Linked DNA regions of Homo sapiens: region 1 is linked to region 2. The links come from fine-mapping of genetic effects on gene expression. A gene starts in region 2. The other region holds a variant in brackets. All regions are shown on one strand. Distances are from middle to middle. Region 1 has its middle 80 kb from the start of HGF. Region 2 holds the start of HGF (hepatocyte growth factor).

The links. PIP is the estimated chance that this variant, and not a neighbour inherited with it, causes the effect.
Region 1: its variant is fine-mapped to the expression of HGF in whole blood (TOPMed, PIP above 0.99).

What each region holds. Positions count from the first base shown.
Region 1 is chr7:81,846,156-81,854,502 of GRCh38, reverse strand. No RefSeq gene overlaps it. Among named protein-coding and RNA genes, the nearest start is that of HGF, 80 kb to the right of the region's middle. The variant A/G (reference allele first, on the strand shown) is at 4,673.
Region 2 is chr7:81,766,514-81,774,860 of GRCh38, reverse strand. HGF (hepatocyte growth factor) reads left to right here and starts at 4,814. Exons shown (of 18, transcript NM_000601.6): 1 at 4,814-4,977. The coding sequence starts at 4,890.

The sequences.
Region 1 (8,347 bases), 80 kb before region 2:
AATAATGGAAACATAATAAGGAAAATTGAAAAAATTAGGCTAAAATGGGATATATTTATATGTAAATGTATCTCATAAATGTATTTCAAGATCATATATATGGTACATTTATTTATGACATGCATTTATTTATTCTGGGGTGATTTTTAAACTTCCTTATATCAATTATGTGAGATTTGGTTAGGTTAAATAAAGTTCAATGTTATTCATATGTTTCCCCTTTGATTTCCCAAAATCCCATCTGTTACTAAGAAAGCTTTTCCACAAGGGTAGATTTGCAAAAGTTTGGAATTGTATTTGCTTTTATAATAGTCATGGTAAATTCTTCATATGGTCACCGCTAGCATATTTTTGTTACTCTGATATAACTTTATACTGAAATTGCCTTATTCCTTGCCATCTTACCAATGTATCAATATGCTTCACCCAGCTATACAGAGTGTCCTAAATCTGCTAGGCCATCATATCTTTTAGCTACAAAAAAGTATTGTTGTCACTCATATTTACAAAAAATGTACTTCATTCATATAAAACATACTCGATTTCCATAAAAATCCCCTTTAATTGTGTGTGGGTGGGTGGGTGGGGGGTAATCACCTATTTGCTACTAGGTGGTAGCTACAGAAGCAACCATTTATTTTCCTTCCTGTGAACTTTGTGTATTTTGGCAGTCATTGAAGCCATGGGCATACAGGTTAGGCAGCTGAGAATCAGATTTTCAAAGACTAGCAAAAATAATTAATGCAGAGAAAAAATGTATTTTATTTGTTTACACTTATTAGTTATTTTAATTATGAATTTGATATAGTTTGGCTCTGTCTCCCCACCCAAATCTCATCTTGAATTGTAATCCCCATGTGTCAAGGGAGGGACCTGGTGGGAGATGATTGGATCATGGGAGTGGTCTTCTCCCTTGCTGTTCTTGTATAGAGTTCTCAGGAGATCTGGTTGTTTGATAAGTGTGGGGTTCTTCTCCCTTCGTGTGCACTCTCCTCTCTCTTTATCTTTCTCTCTCTCCCTGTCTCTTTCCTGCCACCATGATGTAAGAGGTGCCTTGCTTCTCCTTCACCTTCCACCATGACTCTAGTTTCCTGAGGCTTCTGCAGCCATCTGCAGGTGTGAGTCAATTCAACCTCCTTTCTTTTACAAATTACCCAGTCTTGGGTAGTATCTTTATAGCAGTGTGAAATGAACTAATATAGCATTTTTTCAAATATATGTAAAAGTGGAGTGAATAGTAATATAAAACACGTATATATACTCTAATTTCAACAGTTTGTCTAATTTTGTTCATCTATTGCTTCCCATCCAGAGTATATTTGTGGAAATCCAAGACATTAAAGTATTTCATCTGTACATACTTTGATCTCTCTCTAAAAGACAAGTACTCTTTAAGCAAAAACATAACTATAATATGATTATGACAACTAAAATGAGTGCAGTAATTTCTTCATATGATTAATTTTCAAATAATTACATTTTTACTTCTTAGAATGTTCTTACCTAAGTTTAGATGAAGGGGCTGCTATAGCTGCTGAAGAAAAGTTGCATTAACAATAATAATAGCAGTTAATAATAAACTAATACATGTTGAGACAGGCACTCTGACTCAGGTCCTGTGCTAATTGCTGTACTTGGGTCAATATTTTAGTCTTTTGAAAAACACTTCATAGTAGGCATTATTATTATCTCTGTATTTTTTAGATTGAGACCTACATGAAACAAATTTCTGAAGTCATGGATCTAATGGCAAAACTAAGTCAATTACAAGCATCTCATTCTATTATCTGCACTCCTTCTTACCACCTCTGTATAATTTAGTATATTTTAGGGTAGAAGAATTTACAGAGTGGAATACTACCCAAATAAATATACCACCTTTTCTGTAATTTCATATGTATCTGAATATAGAAAATTATTTTATTTCTTTTTTTTGAGAGTAAATGTACATAGTTTTACCTACGAATGTAGGAACGCATATTCACTTACTAAATTTAGTAGAAACTTCCATTTCATTCTCTGCAAAATAGTCTATGCACACTGTAACACATAAATGTGAAGATAAATGTATTTTTTCTATCTAGCTAAAATATTTTAAAGAGCGAGAAATAGTAGAGAATAAATTTCAAAAATACATTTCAATATATAATTCTACGTATTAAATATGAAAATGGTTCCATATTTGAGGTTGACTTCTAAATGAATACAAAATAAAAAGCTTATCAGTTTTAGGACAACAAAACTATAGGAACTACAAACAAAGCGGGGGATGCACTAAAATTAGTGGCTGGCATACATGGAACATGTGTTGGCCGAAACAAAGGAAGCTCATTTAAGAATGTATCAGATTGAACTAAGCTGTGACAGAAACTTGTTTGAAGGTTTGTATGTGGCTGTGAGTATTCCAGGTATGTTAACTCCATCTGTTTTTTTAATATTTTCATTGGGTGCCTCCCATTGTTCTGAAACATCAAAGTAAATATTAACTTAATCACCTTTCTGAAATGATTCCTACGTAAGAATTTCTTATTTCAGTTATTATAGTTATTGACTATGTGAAAGACATTCTGCCAGTTTTTGCAGAGGATATAAGGATGAGTAAAGCTCTGTATCCTCTAATGGGGAGCCTGAAAAAAATACTAGTAGGGAGAATATGTGCGATATGTGATATACTTCTAAAGTTCTGAGTGTGTGAAAAAGATGGGAAACCATAGCAACAAGTTGAGGACAAAGCAGGATAGATTTGTGGACAGGATTTTTTTAATTAAATTTTTTGAAGCACTAAACCTTGAAGGCACTTTAAGTTTCTTTCTGTATGTTATCCTTCATTTAAAATGTCATTGCTACAGGTTCTACATTGGGACCATTTCTTTCTTTTTTCACAGTCAGCATAATAAATTAGAACCACAACTCATTTCTAAATTTTCAATTTATCTTTGTTAAATCTAACAAAGCTGCCAGATTGCTCTTCCTAAAGACCAGTATTATTGTGTTACTAGGATTAGCATTTATGGGAAGCACAGCTGACAGGATGATAATTCTTTAAAAAGCATCAAAGCATCAAGTGACTTAAGATATCACTATTGTCTGTGCCTGTGGTTCTTTAACTTTAGTATTCATCAGAATCACCTGGAGGGCTTGCTAAAAGATACACTGCTGGGGAATATCCCCAGATTTTTTAAATTCAGGAATTCTGAGGAGGAGCCTGTGACTTTGCATTTCTAAGAATTTCGCAAATGCTGCTGAGACTGCTGGTCTCAGGACTTTGAGAACCACTGTTCTATATTACTTTTATTAGCATGGTGATTAGATAGAGCACAGGACTCGTGAAAGATCTAGATCCTTTTCCAGATGTTTCCTTTGCTAGAACTATGAGCTTATGGAAGTTGGGTGGTCTCCCAAGGTTTAATTTTATCATCTTATATATTAGATCCAGTTGTGGGCTAAAGCTGACTTGAAATGTCTTTTGAAAACCAGGTCTGCAAATCTATTCTAAACACTGGGTTCAGTGACATCACTGAAGCTGATATTGGTCATGGTGGGAGTATTTAGCCCCACGAAAATGGAAAATCATTAAAAATCAGTTTTTATTTCTCTTTTTCCCCCAGAATAATTTTATTCTTCAATATCCCCCATTATCTATAATTACATTCCCTTCCTCAGGTATATTGTCTCATGTATGCACTTTAAACTGTACTGATGACTCCCAGTTAATAATAAACTTACATATGTACAAAACAAATAAATAGATATTTTATTTGCACATCAACGAAATCATGTTTTATTTCTGTTTCTGAACCAAAGGTGATTTTGTCCCCAGGGAACATTTGGTGATATATAGAGACATTTTTAGTTGTAACCAAAAATGGAGATGGTGGATAGTTTTACTGGCATTTAGTGGGTAGAGGTTAGGGATGATTCTAATCACCCTGCAATGCACAGGACAACCCCCACAGCAAAGACGTATCCTGCCCTAAATGTCAAGAGAGCCAATGTTGAGAAACAGCTCTATGTAGTATTCTGTAACTATTTTTTTTTTTACAATATACATCTATACACACAGATAGATCCATTTCATTTTTAAGCAACTTCATAGTATTTGCTTTTACCATACGAATTTTGCATTATGTATTTTTATTTTATATTATGAACTTTTTTATCTGATGAATGACTGTAAATCTGATGTTGATTCATTGGTTTCTTTTTAAAATTTATTTATATTTTAAAGAAATGAAGTCAATATTTCAAAGAGACATCTACACTCCCATGTTTATTGCAACACAATTCACAACAGGCAAGTTATGGAATCAGTGTGTGTCCATCATTGGATGAATGGAAAAAGAAAATGTGGTACACATACACAATGGAATACTATTCATCCATAACAAAGAATGAAATTCTATCATTTGTGGCAACATGGATAAACCTGAGGAACAGTATGTTAAGTGAAATAAACCAGGCACAAAAAGACAAATATGGCATGATTTACACATATGTGGAATCTAAAAAAGTTGATCTCATAGAAGCAGAGAGTACAATAATTGTTGCCAGAGTTGGGGGAGGTTAGGGGTGCAGGCAAGATAGGGAGATATTAGTCAATGGGTACAAAGTTATAGTTAGATAGAAGGAATAGGTTCTGGTGTTCTATTGCACAGTATGTGACTAGGATTAT[A/G]TAATACTGTACATTGCATTACATAATTCAAAAGAGCTAGAAGAGAGGATTTTGAAAGTTCTCAGCACAAAAAATAGATAAATATATGAGGTGATGGATATGCTAAACATCCTGATTTGATTTTTACACAATGTATGCATGTATAAAAACATCGCATTCTACCCCATAAATATGTACAATTATGGATCAAAAACACCATTTAAAATTATTTATTTTTAAATTAACAAATAAGATATTTTTGTGGTGTGCAAAATGATGAGATATTCATATATTTGTAAAATGACTACATTGAGCTAATTAATTGATTTGGATAGGCTTTGTGTCCCCACCCAAATCTCATTTTGAATTATAATCCCCAATCTCCACATGTTAAGGGAGAGACCAGGTGGAAGTATTTAGATCATGGAGGTGGTTCCCCCATGCTGTTCTTGTGATAGTGAATGAGTTCTCACAAAATCTGATGGTTTTTTAAGGGGCTCTTCCCCCTTAAGTTGGCACTTCTTCTTCCTGCTGCCTTGTGAAGAAGGTACCTTGCTTCTCCTTCATCTTCTGCCATGATTGTAGGTTTCCTGAGGCCACACCAGCCATGCTGAACTGTGAGTCAATTAAACTTTTTTCCCTTATAAATTACCCAGTCTTGGGCAGTTCTTGATAGCCTTACGAAACAGATTAATACATTAACATAAGTGTTACCTCACATACTTATTTTTTTTTGTGGTGAGAATACCTAAAATCCACTTGCAGTGATTTTCAAAATATATAGTATTTTGTCATTAACTATAGTCAGTTCTCTTGAATAGATTCCATTTTCCTTTTATTACATTTTGAAGAACCAATTATTACATAATTACCAGAACACCAGTGACTTCATCCATATTAATTTTCACATAATCTTGGACACCATCACAATTTGAAACCTCTCACACCCTTTTGAATAATCTATTTTTCTCAGTAGCAGATTGGTCTTTCTTAGTTTATCTTTATTGTAAAAACTCATACAAATCTAAAATTTGAGAAGTCAGTTGATTGTGAGCAAAGACATTATTGACAAAGTTTTGGTTCCAACTGATTCCAACTGCATAGAAACTTCTATAACATAATGCACAAATGTGAGGAAATAAAAGGGGGAGAGTATGAAGTAAAGATAGACCATGCTTTCCTGGTTTCCTTCTGGTCAAAATGCTGGATATTTTTTAAAGATCAGGACCTAGGTTCTCTTCTCTTCAAACTCTGTACTTTCTTGAAAGAAAACTTCATCCAATGGCATTCATTAACCTGCTTTATTTGAAAATGACTCCGAAAATTGTATTTCCTAATTAAAAATTCTGTACTGAGCCCCAAACCCATAAAACCTACAGCTTGCTTGATGTTTCCATTTGGATAATAAAAAGTAACTCTAACTTACTATGTACAAAAATATTTCTCATCTTCTCCTTAAATGTTGTCCTCTTCTTTAAGTTTTGCGTCTCCATTACATTGCATATTTAAAACACCCTTTAAAATTCTTCCACCTCTCTCCATTTGATCTGCTAGCTCCATAAGCCAAGCTTCTATCTTCTCTTACTTGGATAGTTTGCAAATTAGCCTCCCTTGTCCATTCTTGTCTCCTCCCAATACAATCTCTTCAATAGATTGTTATTATAAATTCAAGTTTGATAATACCTCACCTCTTCTTAAAATCTGTTATTGACTTCTTCTGCTTTTAGGATAATAATTAAGAGACTTAATGTGTTCCACCAACTAACATTACATGGCCAACAAGCATGAAACGTCTCTTATCCATGTATTCAGGCATGTATCAGACTAACCCTCCCCTTGATCTCTATGTGACAACCTTACTGACTTTCTTACAACGAATAGTCCCTGAAGGCTCAGGGCCCTTGCACATGCAGTGTCCTCTGTCTTACAGCGCTTTACTCTCTCATCTTTGCTAGTAATTAGATTCTCAATTCAAATATCACTTCACTGGGAAACCCATGCCTCTCAAGGAATATAGAAAAACTCCTTCCCTATGATGTATTTTTGTTTGATGGCTTTGTCAGAATTACAATTTTATAGGCATTTCTGTTTTATTTAATTCATGTCTATTTCTTCTCATTAGACTATAAGCTCCACAATATCTGCTTATGTTCAATATTTATAGCATCAATACTTAGAGTGTGTGACACTCAGTAAGAACTCAATACATATTACCAATTATTGAATAAATGTGTTAAAATGTGGAATAATTGGAATATATGTATTTCTTCTCTCTCTCTCTCTCTCTCTCTCTCTCTCTCTCTCATATTTTCCTCCCCCTAATAGATCAGCAAAAGATTTTCATTTCCCACAGTGCACAAGTCATTCTAAGAGTCTACCTACGGGATGGTACCATAATGATGCTTAATGCTGGCCGCATATTAGAATTATTTGGGGAGCTTTTAATAAACACCCAAAGCTAGGCCCATCACAGAACAGTTAAATCAGCATTTCTCAAGGTGAGGCTCAGGCAACATTTTTTTAAAAGCTCCCTAGGTGATGCTAATGTGGAGCTAGAATTGTGAAACACGCTCTCTAATGGATGAAATCTGAATACCCGTCTGTTCATGAACCATACAAACCATTACTGTTGGCCTGGGAAATGTCTAATTCTAATTAAATAATTCTTAAATCATTCATTCATATATTCATTCAAAACATATAATAGTTTTAAATTATATATTATTACATCTTATATTTGTTACATAAATATTACATATTATGTATTGTTACGAGAAGCAAAAGTTTGTACTAGGAATTGTGAAGGATATAAAATGTAGCCAGATACTTCCAAGATTCTACTATGAACTTTCTTCCTCACTTAGCTGATATCATGGATTTAATAAGAATTTAATCCCTAGCAGATCTCTTTTAATCTCTTTGCAGATCCTCTCACTGTACCTACTACTTGAACATGCAGTAGTCTTTCCCTCTGATTGTGCAAATGTAATAACGCAGGCATGGCTTATGCAAGAAAATTCATGAACCTCTTCTATAAAATGAGTACGTCTACTCACAGACATTTTCCCCTTACTCTTAAAACTGAAAGGGAGGCTTTCTGATTGCTATAACATCTAGAGGACAGTGGTTAGAGATACTGTTGCAAAAAGAGAAGCTGCAGAACTGTTGGGGTGGGCAGGAAGAGTAGAAGTATTTTAAAAGAGACATGGTGAAATCAGGAAGCTTTTTCCTCAAAGGGCAGTTGCTGCAGGAGCAACTGAGTCATCCTCCCAGTATTGTCTGTCCTAGATGCAGTGAACAGGAAGTGAAAGTTCAGTGTTGCTTACTGTCAATTACCATCCACATAAACAGACACAGGAAGATCAAGTCATGTTACTTTAGCCTTAGTGCCCTTGAATGTTTTGATAAATTTGTTAGCTATTTACTCAACATAAATATTCAACTTACGTACCCCATGGCCAAAATTTATAATTTTCCTTTTGAATTCTTTTTAAAAAGCATTCTGTGTTGCCACACGTTTATTTATTTTATTTATCTTTTTGTATTCACCAACATCCAAGCCCCTCGCCTCGCCTCACTTTCTGCTGATGGGAGGGGAAAGTCTCATCATCCAGACCCCTCATAAAGGTATACTTGGTGCCAGGGAGTAATCCCCTTGGGTCACTAATGGATATTCACACATCTGAGAATGCTGTT
Region 2 (8,347 bases):
GATAAATTAGCTTCCTCAATTTGTAATTGTTTTAGTAAGTGACTCAGCTGGGATTTGAAAGCAGGCCTATGACTAAGCTGAGCCTATCCAAGTGGTAGCAGAAACAGAATGGCACCTGGCATGTGACAGGCATTTAATAAACAAAATGACAGTTCAAGAACACAAAACGCATTAGTAATCACAGGCGTTTAGTAAACAAAATGACCAGTTCAATAACACAAAACTCATTAGTAATCTACAGATCATAAGGTCATGTCAGCTTATTCCTCACGTACGTTCTTACAAGCATCACTTGTGGAGAAACCTGGGCTTAAGACAAAGAAAGATACCGTGTTAAAGCAGCAGCCTTTTAAAGAGCACAGTAATAGAGGCTTTTCCATTAAATCCATCTAGTATCCATGAGATACTAGAACCCTCAATCATAGGACAGATTTAAAATGGTATTATAGGGTAATGAGTATCCATCTAGTATTTAAGTATTTACATAAATTGCAGTACTTAAAGTAATCTCTTTACAAGTTATTTTATCAAAAACTTTTCAGACACAATTTTTTGGGGATTTATTCAAACTGTTTAACACTTAAGAAGTACTGGCTTACCTTGGAGATACTGCTCGTTTGGTTTCAGACCACTGTGATCAAGCAAAAATCGCAATAAAGCAAGTTACATGAATTTTTTTTTCGTTTCCCAGTGCATATAAAAGTTACACAGCAGACTATTAAGTGTGCAACAGCATTATGTTTAAAAATGTCCATACCTTAACTTAAAAATACTTTATTGTTAAAAAATGCTAACGATCATATAAGCCTTCAGCGAGTGATAATCTTTTTGCTGATGGAGGGTCTTGCTTGATGTTCAGAGCCTTGCTGTGGCTTTGGCTTAAGGCTTAAGGGAATATTGCAGCTGGTTTGATCTTCTATCTAGACTGCTCAAATTTTCTGCATATCAGCAATAAGGCTGCTCTGCTCTCTTATCATTTGTGTGTTCACTGGAGTAGCACTTCTAACTTGCTTCAAGAACTTTTCTTTTGCATTTGCAACTCGGATAACTGGTGCAAGAGGACTGGCTTTTGACCTAACTCATCTTTGGGCATGCCTTTCCCCAAAAGCTTAATTTATTTCTAGCTTTTGATTTCAAGGAAGAGACGCGCAACTCTTCCTTTCACTTGAGTACTTAGAGGTCATTGCAGGGCTATCAATTGGCCTAATTTCAATAATGTTGTGTTTTAGGAAATAGAGAAGCCTGAGGGGAGGGAGAGAGACGGGTGAACAGCTCGTCAGTGGAGTAGTCAGAATACACACATGAATGGATTAAGTTTGGGTTGTGGTTTGTGGTGCCCAAAACAATTATGGCAGTAACATCAAAGATCACTGATCACAGATCATCATGTAAAATAATAAGGAAATATTTGAAATATTGCAAGAATTACCAAAATGTGACACGGAGACACAAAGTGAGCACATGCTGTGGGAAAAACGGCACCAACAGACTTGCTCAATTCGAGGACACCACAAAACTTAATTTGTAAAAACACATTATCTGTGAAGTACAATAAAGTGAAGGGCAATAAAATGATGTATGCCTATGTAAGGCAATCAGTAGATGATGGGAAAAAAACATTGCATGATTTAGAAAAAACAAAGAGAATATGTTATCAAAATGACTAAACTAATAGCATAATTAGAATTTCATTTGAGTATTTCTTTATAGTTTTGAGAGATTTAAAATTATGTATTATTTTATAAATTATTATGGAGGATCTCCTATATACCCAGTCTCAGACTTATTTTGGTGATTATACTCTGGAACATGTGATTCTTCTCCTCGTGGGGTTAAAAAAATTTATACCATCCTATGGGGTATGACTAATCTGAATCTCACACTTGAATATTACTTTGGGATCTTAGGCAAGTTATTTAAGAATAAAAATAACTTACTATGTTTCCTCAACTATAAAATGAGAATTTTAATAATCTTAAACTTACTGTAAGGATGAAATAATTTTCAATAGTATGTAATATGATGCTTAGCATACATTAAGATCTCAGTGTATATTAGCAACAATTTCAGTAAAGAAAGACCAAATAATTTTTGTCAAGAAATATGAATATATAAATTATATAGGTTTTAAGTTGTATTTACCATATTTAATGTGACAGTAAAAAAAGTCACGAAAATGTGTGACCTAATAAGTTTATTCAGTTTTCTAATGTCCTGAACCCCTTATCTCAGATGGATTTTGCTCCAAACTTATAACAATAATTTACAACCCTGACTCTAGTTTTTTTTTCTGAGAGAAAAAAATAAATAGAAACACTGTTCTTTTTCTTTCCTTACCTACAGGAATTTACTTACAGAAAAATCTAACTTCTTTTAAAAACAGCCTTAATCCCTTGTTGGGCCAAGGGAAAACTTTTCCATTGTTCTCTGAAGGTTTGCTAAAAAAAAAATTACTGTCAAGAGGCAGATCAATAGAAGAAAAGGCATACACATTTATTTGATCATAATTTTACACAACCCGAGAGCCTTTAGAACAAAGACCCAAAGTTACAAAAGAAATTGTCCATTTTTATGCTTAGGTTCAACAAAGTGTGGGCAGGTGTGGAGAAATACAACTGGACAAAAGGAATATGATCTCATGCTAACAGACTGAGTGGGGACGCCTGGCAAGGTGAGATTCTTCCTGGTATCTCTGTGCAGTACTCATTCCTTCTGGGTATGGGGCAGGACCTTCTTTGGAATGGGGTCTTATGAGCTACGATCAAACAAGGTAGGTCAGATAATGTCTTTATGGCCAGATTTCACACAGAAAGTTGAGGTGTTAGAGTGATATGCTTAGGTTTTATGGCTGGTTTGGGAAAAAGGGTTCTGGTTTCTAGGAGCCACCTTGGGAAAGAGGGATTCTAGTTTCTATGCCTCGCCTTGGGGGAGAATGAAGGGCCGGAGACTGGAGAGCAGGAGAAGGTCAGAGAGAGCTGATTCTGAGGTCTTCATTTGGGGTATCATTTTTCTGAGCCCCTACACCCTAATAAAGCACAAGAGATGCAGTGGAGCAATTCAGGGTCACGGTCAGGCTATGCATTGAACTGAGATTTCCCAAAAAGTCTACTGAACAGTAAAAAGAAAGTAAAATGGATCCTGGGGACACCAGACAGAGGCTGACAAATGATTTTTAAGTAAGGAGAAAATGATAAAAGAGAAGGATTAGCAATAGAAACGGGTCATATAAAATAGATCCCTCAAAAGGAATTCTCTTAATCCCTAGCTTCTCTAGATATCCCACAACCTCAGGGACTTATCAGGCAGGTTGTTTTTCCCTGAAAGTGGGGGTAAGGGAGCTGGAGGACAAATGAAGGTGGTATGTGGAGGGAAGGCTGTTCTGTGGATGAGTTTAATTCAGCCCCACAATCACTTCTGTACAGCTACCCACCGCTCTAGTCATTCCCACATTTGGCCTGCTTTCTTTTCCTCTGTGGACAGGGGCACTGTTCTCTACTAATATCCATCTCAGAGAGATACAGGGGCAAGTATCCCTCAGCATCCATTAGAAATAAAGCAGGCTCTTGCTTAAAGTTACCAGAGCATCCACCTCTGGGTGCAAAGACAAATTCTCTGAATCAAGTGAGGGGTCTGGGCAATGATCTCACAAGGATTTGATACCTAGGAGTCCCCCCATGCCCATACAAGCTCCTCATCTTTCCACTTACACTTTGGGAAGCTGGCTGTCGTGTACAGGCAGATGAAGCTGGAAAAGAGAGGCATATTCAGTACTCACGAATTCAAACAGCTTGAGGGATTTCCGGTGAAAGTCAGTCCTAACCAGTGTATACGTACATACACACCAACATGTGTGAATGTGTTGTGTGCACGTGTGTGCCTGTACAAGTCCACATGGCATATTTACCTGTCAGGGACAGGCTATGGACAATGACTGTTTCTTGGACTTTCTCTTAAAAAGTCAGATCAGACAAGTTTATTTTGTATACTTTGGGTAAATGTGTGGTATTTCGTGAGTTTGGCAGTTTGTGAAAAAAAAAAAAAAAAAAAAAAAAAAAAAAAGCTGCCTGCTCTGAGCCCATGGGGCAGGGGCAATTTTTTCATCTGACAATCTGCGTGCTTTTGTTTTGCTTGCTTATTTTGGCCCCACAATACCACACCCTTTTCTTAACTAACCTCTTTCTACCTGGGCTGGACGTGCCTGGGCTCTCCTCCCTGGCCCCGCTCCCACCTCTCCCAGGTCTCTAAACCCCTAGAGAACCTGTGTCAGTGTTTTGAATCCCTCAGTTGCTCTAGCAGGAAAACTAGACAGATTAGGAGCTGGGGCACATTTGGCTGAAAGACAGCTCTTCGCTTTCTTCTTATGCTGCTTCCCCTTCCTCTTTTCCCAAATAGATATATAAACACATGTATTTTCCTGTTTAAATTGAGCGAATTGGTCCCCTGCCTGTGCCTTGATTTAGCCATTGGGCTCAGCCTTGCTCCTCCCTTCCTTACTCGGATAGGAGCCACTGGGATCTGGAGCTCCAGCTTCCAAATTGAAGCTGGCCTCAGGCCAGGTGACCTTTTCTTTGTAAGTTTCTTTCCTAAGCGTGGGGTTGGGGGGAGGCGGGGAATGGGGGGGGTTGCAGGGATCTGTTTGGTGCTGTTGAAGGGGGGGCGAGTGAGGAAAGGAGGGGGCTGGAAGAGAGTAAAGGGCTGTTGTTAAACAGTTTCTTACCGTAAGAGGGAGTTCAGACCTAGATCTTTCCAGTTAATCACACAACAAACTTAGCTCATCGCAATAAAAAGCAGCTCAGAGCCGACTGGCTCTTTTAGGCACTGACTCCGAACAGGATTCTTTCACCCAGGCATCTCCTCCAGAGGGATCCGCCAGCCCGTCCAGCAGCACCATGTGGGTGACCAAACTCCTGCCAGCCCTGCTGCTGCAGCATGTCCTCCTGCATCTCCTCCTGCTCCCCATCGCCATCCCCTATGCAGGTTAGTTCCCTTCTTCTTCTTCATTATTAGTATTAGTATTTAACTCTCCTGCTAACCTTCCCTATTCCTTTTAACACCCTCTTTTTACCCTATTCCCAGCATCCTTTCTGAACTCAGTATGTAGTATAGGTTTCTAAAAGCTCTCATTATGCTTTTTTTGACATTCTTTTTTGTTGTTGTTTGAATAGCATTTAAAATGATAATTAACTTTCCCTCAACTCCCCTCCACCTCCAACCCAAGCCCCGTCCCACTTAGCCTAATAGTTGTGGATTATGAGATAGGGAGGAAGTGCTAATACTGGCTGAACTTGGCTGCTTTGGACAAGTTTAAAGCTAAAGAGAGGGTCTGGTCTGAAGAGGCAAGAGTGATGGTCAGTCCGGCAGGAAGTCATCCTTTTCCAGAGAACAATTTTTCATGATAATGCACTACTCCACATCACCTAGTCAACATTTGGAGCCAAATTACGACTTTGTACAGGTTTTCATTTTGAGGAGGCAGAATAAACTCTGAGTATTTGCATATCATAAAAATGAAAGAGAAAGCCTCTTTTTAAAGATCTTATTCTTTCTGGGTACGGATGCCTGCCCTTTGAAACTGCAGTGCACGGAGACTTTGATTAAAGCTGCAGAACTGCCCATCTCTGTCTCCCACTTTCTCCCTTGGATTTGCCGTTTGGGGAGGAGTTGCTTGAAAGTTCATATTGCTTGGAGATTTAGAGATCTCGTTTGCTGCTCTGGGAAGTTTCTCTTGTTATCAGGGCAAGAGGAAACATCTGTATTTTGTTGTATCATTGTAGAGGCTGAGGTGCCAACGGGAGAAGGCAGTGAATATCAAGGGTAGGCGCAGGGGAATAAAAGAGTGGGAACAAATGCCCAGATGGAGACATGGCCTTTTTACAATATAAAAAAGAGAACTGGCTGTATCTTTTGAGATGGTAAATATGACATTTATCAGACCTTTGATCTAGTTTTTGATATGGTACAAGGGTTAAAAAACTCAAGAATTTTCTAAATGCAAAGGAAAATCATTCAACCCACCTGGTTTTCTTTTATTTTGTGAAGTGGCCCGTTTGGAAAATGACACTGTTTGGAAAGGGTCACTCTGAAAGCATTTAGGTAAGATTTCTGAAGAAGTGAAAAAGCAGTGAGTTCAAATCAAGCAGGTTATCATGCTTGACATGTGTCATGTTAAAATCGCTTCACAGGGTCGGGTGCGGTGGCTCACGCCTGTAATCCCAGCACTTTGGGAGGCCGAGGCGGGCAGATCACGAGGTCAGGAGATTGAGACCATCCTAGCTAACAAGGTGAAACCCTGTCTCTACTAAAAATACAAAAAATTAGCCAGGCGTGGTGGCAGGCACCTGTAGTCCCACCTACTTGGGAGGCTGAGGCAGGAGACTCTCTTGAACCTGGGAGGTGGGGGTTGCAGTGAGCCGAGATTGTGTCACCGCACTTCAGCCTGGGGAACGGAGCAAGACTCCATCTCAAGAAGAAGAAGAAAAAAATGCTTCACAGATGACTGCTGGTTTAGGGGATTTTGAGCTTAAATTGAAATAATGGCTAATATTTTGAGGGTTTTCATTTTTAAAGATTAAAATGTCACTGTTCTTAAGTAGAATCTGGTTACCTGAATTCATCTGTGCTAACGCAAGGGGAACGCAGTGTGGAAAACCCAAACAGTAGATCAACCGTAGGCAGTGTCTATTTGTTTTCGGCATGCATTATGAACTTTTGGCAGGAGACATACATTTGTAATTATATTTCACTTTGCCTAATGTAGAAATGACTGTGTTTCCTGAGTACAGGCAGAATGCAGCCCAAGAGTGCTGGCAGGCAAGGAGAGTCCAGTTGGGAATTACAAATATGCTGTGAATAATTCCTGAAGTGGATAATTCTAAAATTGTCATCAAAGGAGGGTGCGCCTTTGTTTAGATGGCCAGTTTGATAGTTTTTTTTAATAACCTTTAAAATAAAAAATATGGGTAGCCTCTTAGAACACACAAAGTTTGTTCTTTTTTAAATGACATTTAATATTGACTATTTAGAGGTTTCTTTTGTTGTTACTAGCTTTGATTATAATTATTTATTCTATGAATTTATATTTGTATGTATTGTAAAATAACACATTGTTAGGAAAGAAGTATATACTGTAAGTTGACAACCAGTTATCAACAGAATACACTATGGAGATACTTTTTTAAAAGCTTAAGAAATATTCAATATAATGGGCCCCCGCCATCTTTGTAGGAGTTAGCCTATATAGAATTACCCTCTATTCACTCCCACCTACATGGGAAACAAATATCCAATCCTCTGTAATAAAAGAAGCATTAAATGAGCACCTAATATTCAAGAGTATGTGGGGGATGTAAAGATGAACAAATAAGAAAGGAACTTAAATTTGTTGAGCAACTGATATGAACCAAGTAGTAAAGTACATCTCACTTAATTCTAATAAGATTGGCACTATTGGACTCATTTAGCCGGTTCAAAGACCTCAGTTATCTTATTTCTTTGTGAGTTAAGGGACAGAGCTGAGATTTCTACCCAAATGTATGTGAATGAACTATGTGGTGTTTTTTTTTTTTCTTTTTTCATTTATATTGAAGCGAGCAGCAGTGAAATCAACTGAAATTTACTTAAAAAAAATCATTTGGCCAAGTGATATATTTTCAAAAAACCCTGTTAGAAATACTTTGTACTATGGTTGAGAGTTCATTTTCAGCATAGAGAATCAAACCAGGTGAAGGGGTTATATGGTACTGAAGTCCATATGAAAAGATGGATGGTAGAATAGTCAGTATCTTAGCACAGGATCACAAGTGGCCCAAGGTACAGAGGTTCGTAAGTATAAGGAATGTCCCAGGAAGGACCCCACACAGCAACTGAAGGCAAGCATTTGAGGCAGAAGTATTGGGCATGTGATGGGGAATATTGTCTGTGAGTGGAAAAGTAAGATGAGGTAGAATGGATAGGATTGAAGGTCATGCTCAACCATGTGGTCTTTAAAATGAATGTCATGCGAGCAGCTGAAAGTTTTTTTGTTGAAAATGTACTTGATTGAAGTTGTTCTTCAGTGTGGTTGCTTCAGTTCCTGTGTGGAAGGAAAGTTGTAGGCAGAAACAGACAGTGAAGGTGGAGGCCAGGATGAGGCTTCTAGAAGAATGAAACCTTAAATAAGAACTGGAAAGGAGAAGGAAGAAAATACCTAGGGAGGCCCCTCAAATCACACTGAACATCACTTCATTTTGTAAATCCCCTTGGAAGAGATGATGCTGCAGCTTCTCAAATATCAGCATTTGATTTACATCTGACACAGTCTCTGTCTTCTTGGTATCTTTATTTGTGATATTGTTGCCTTCTCTAAAGA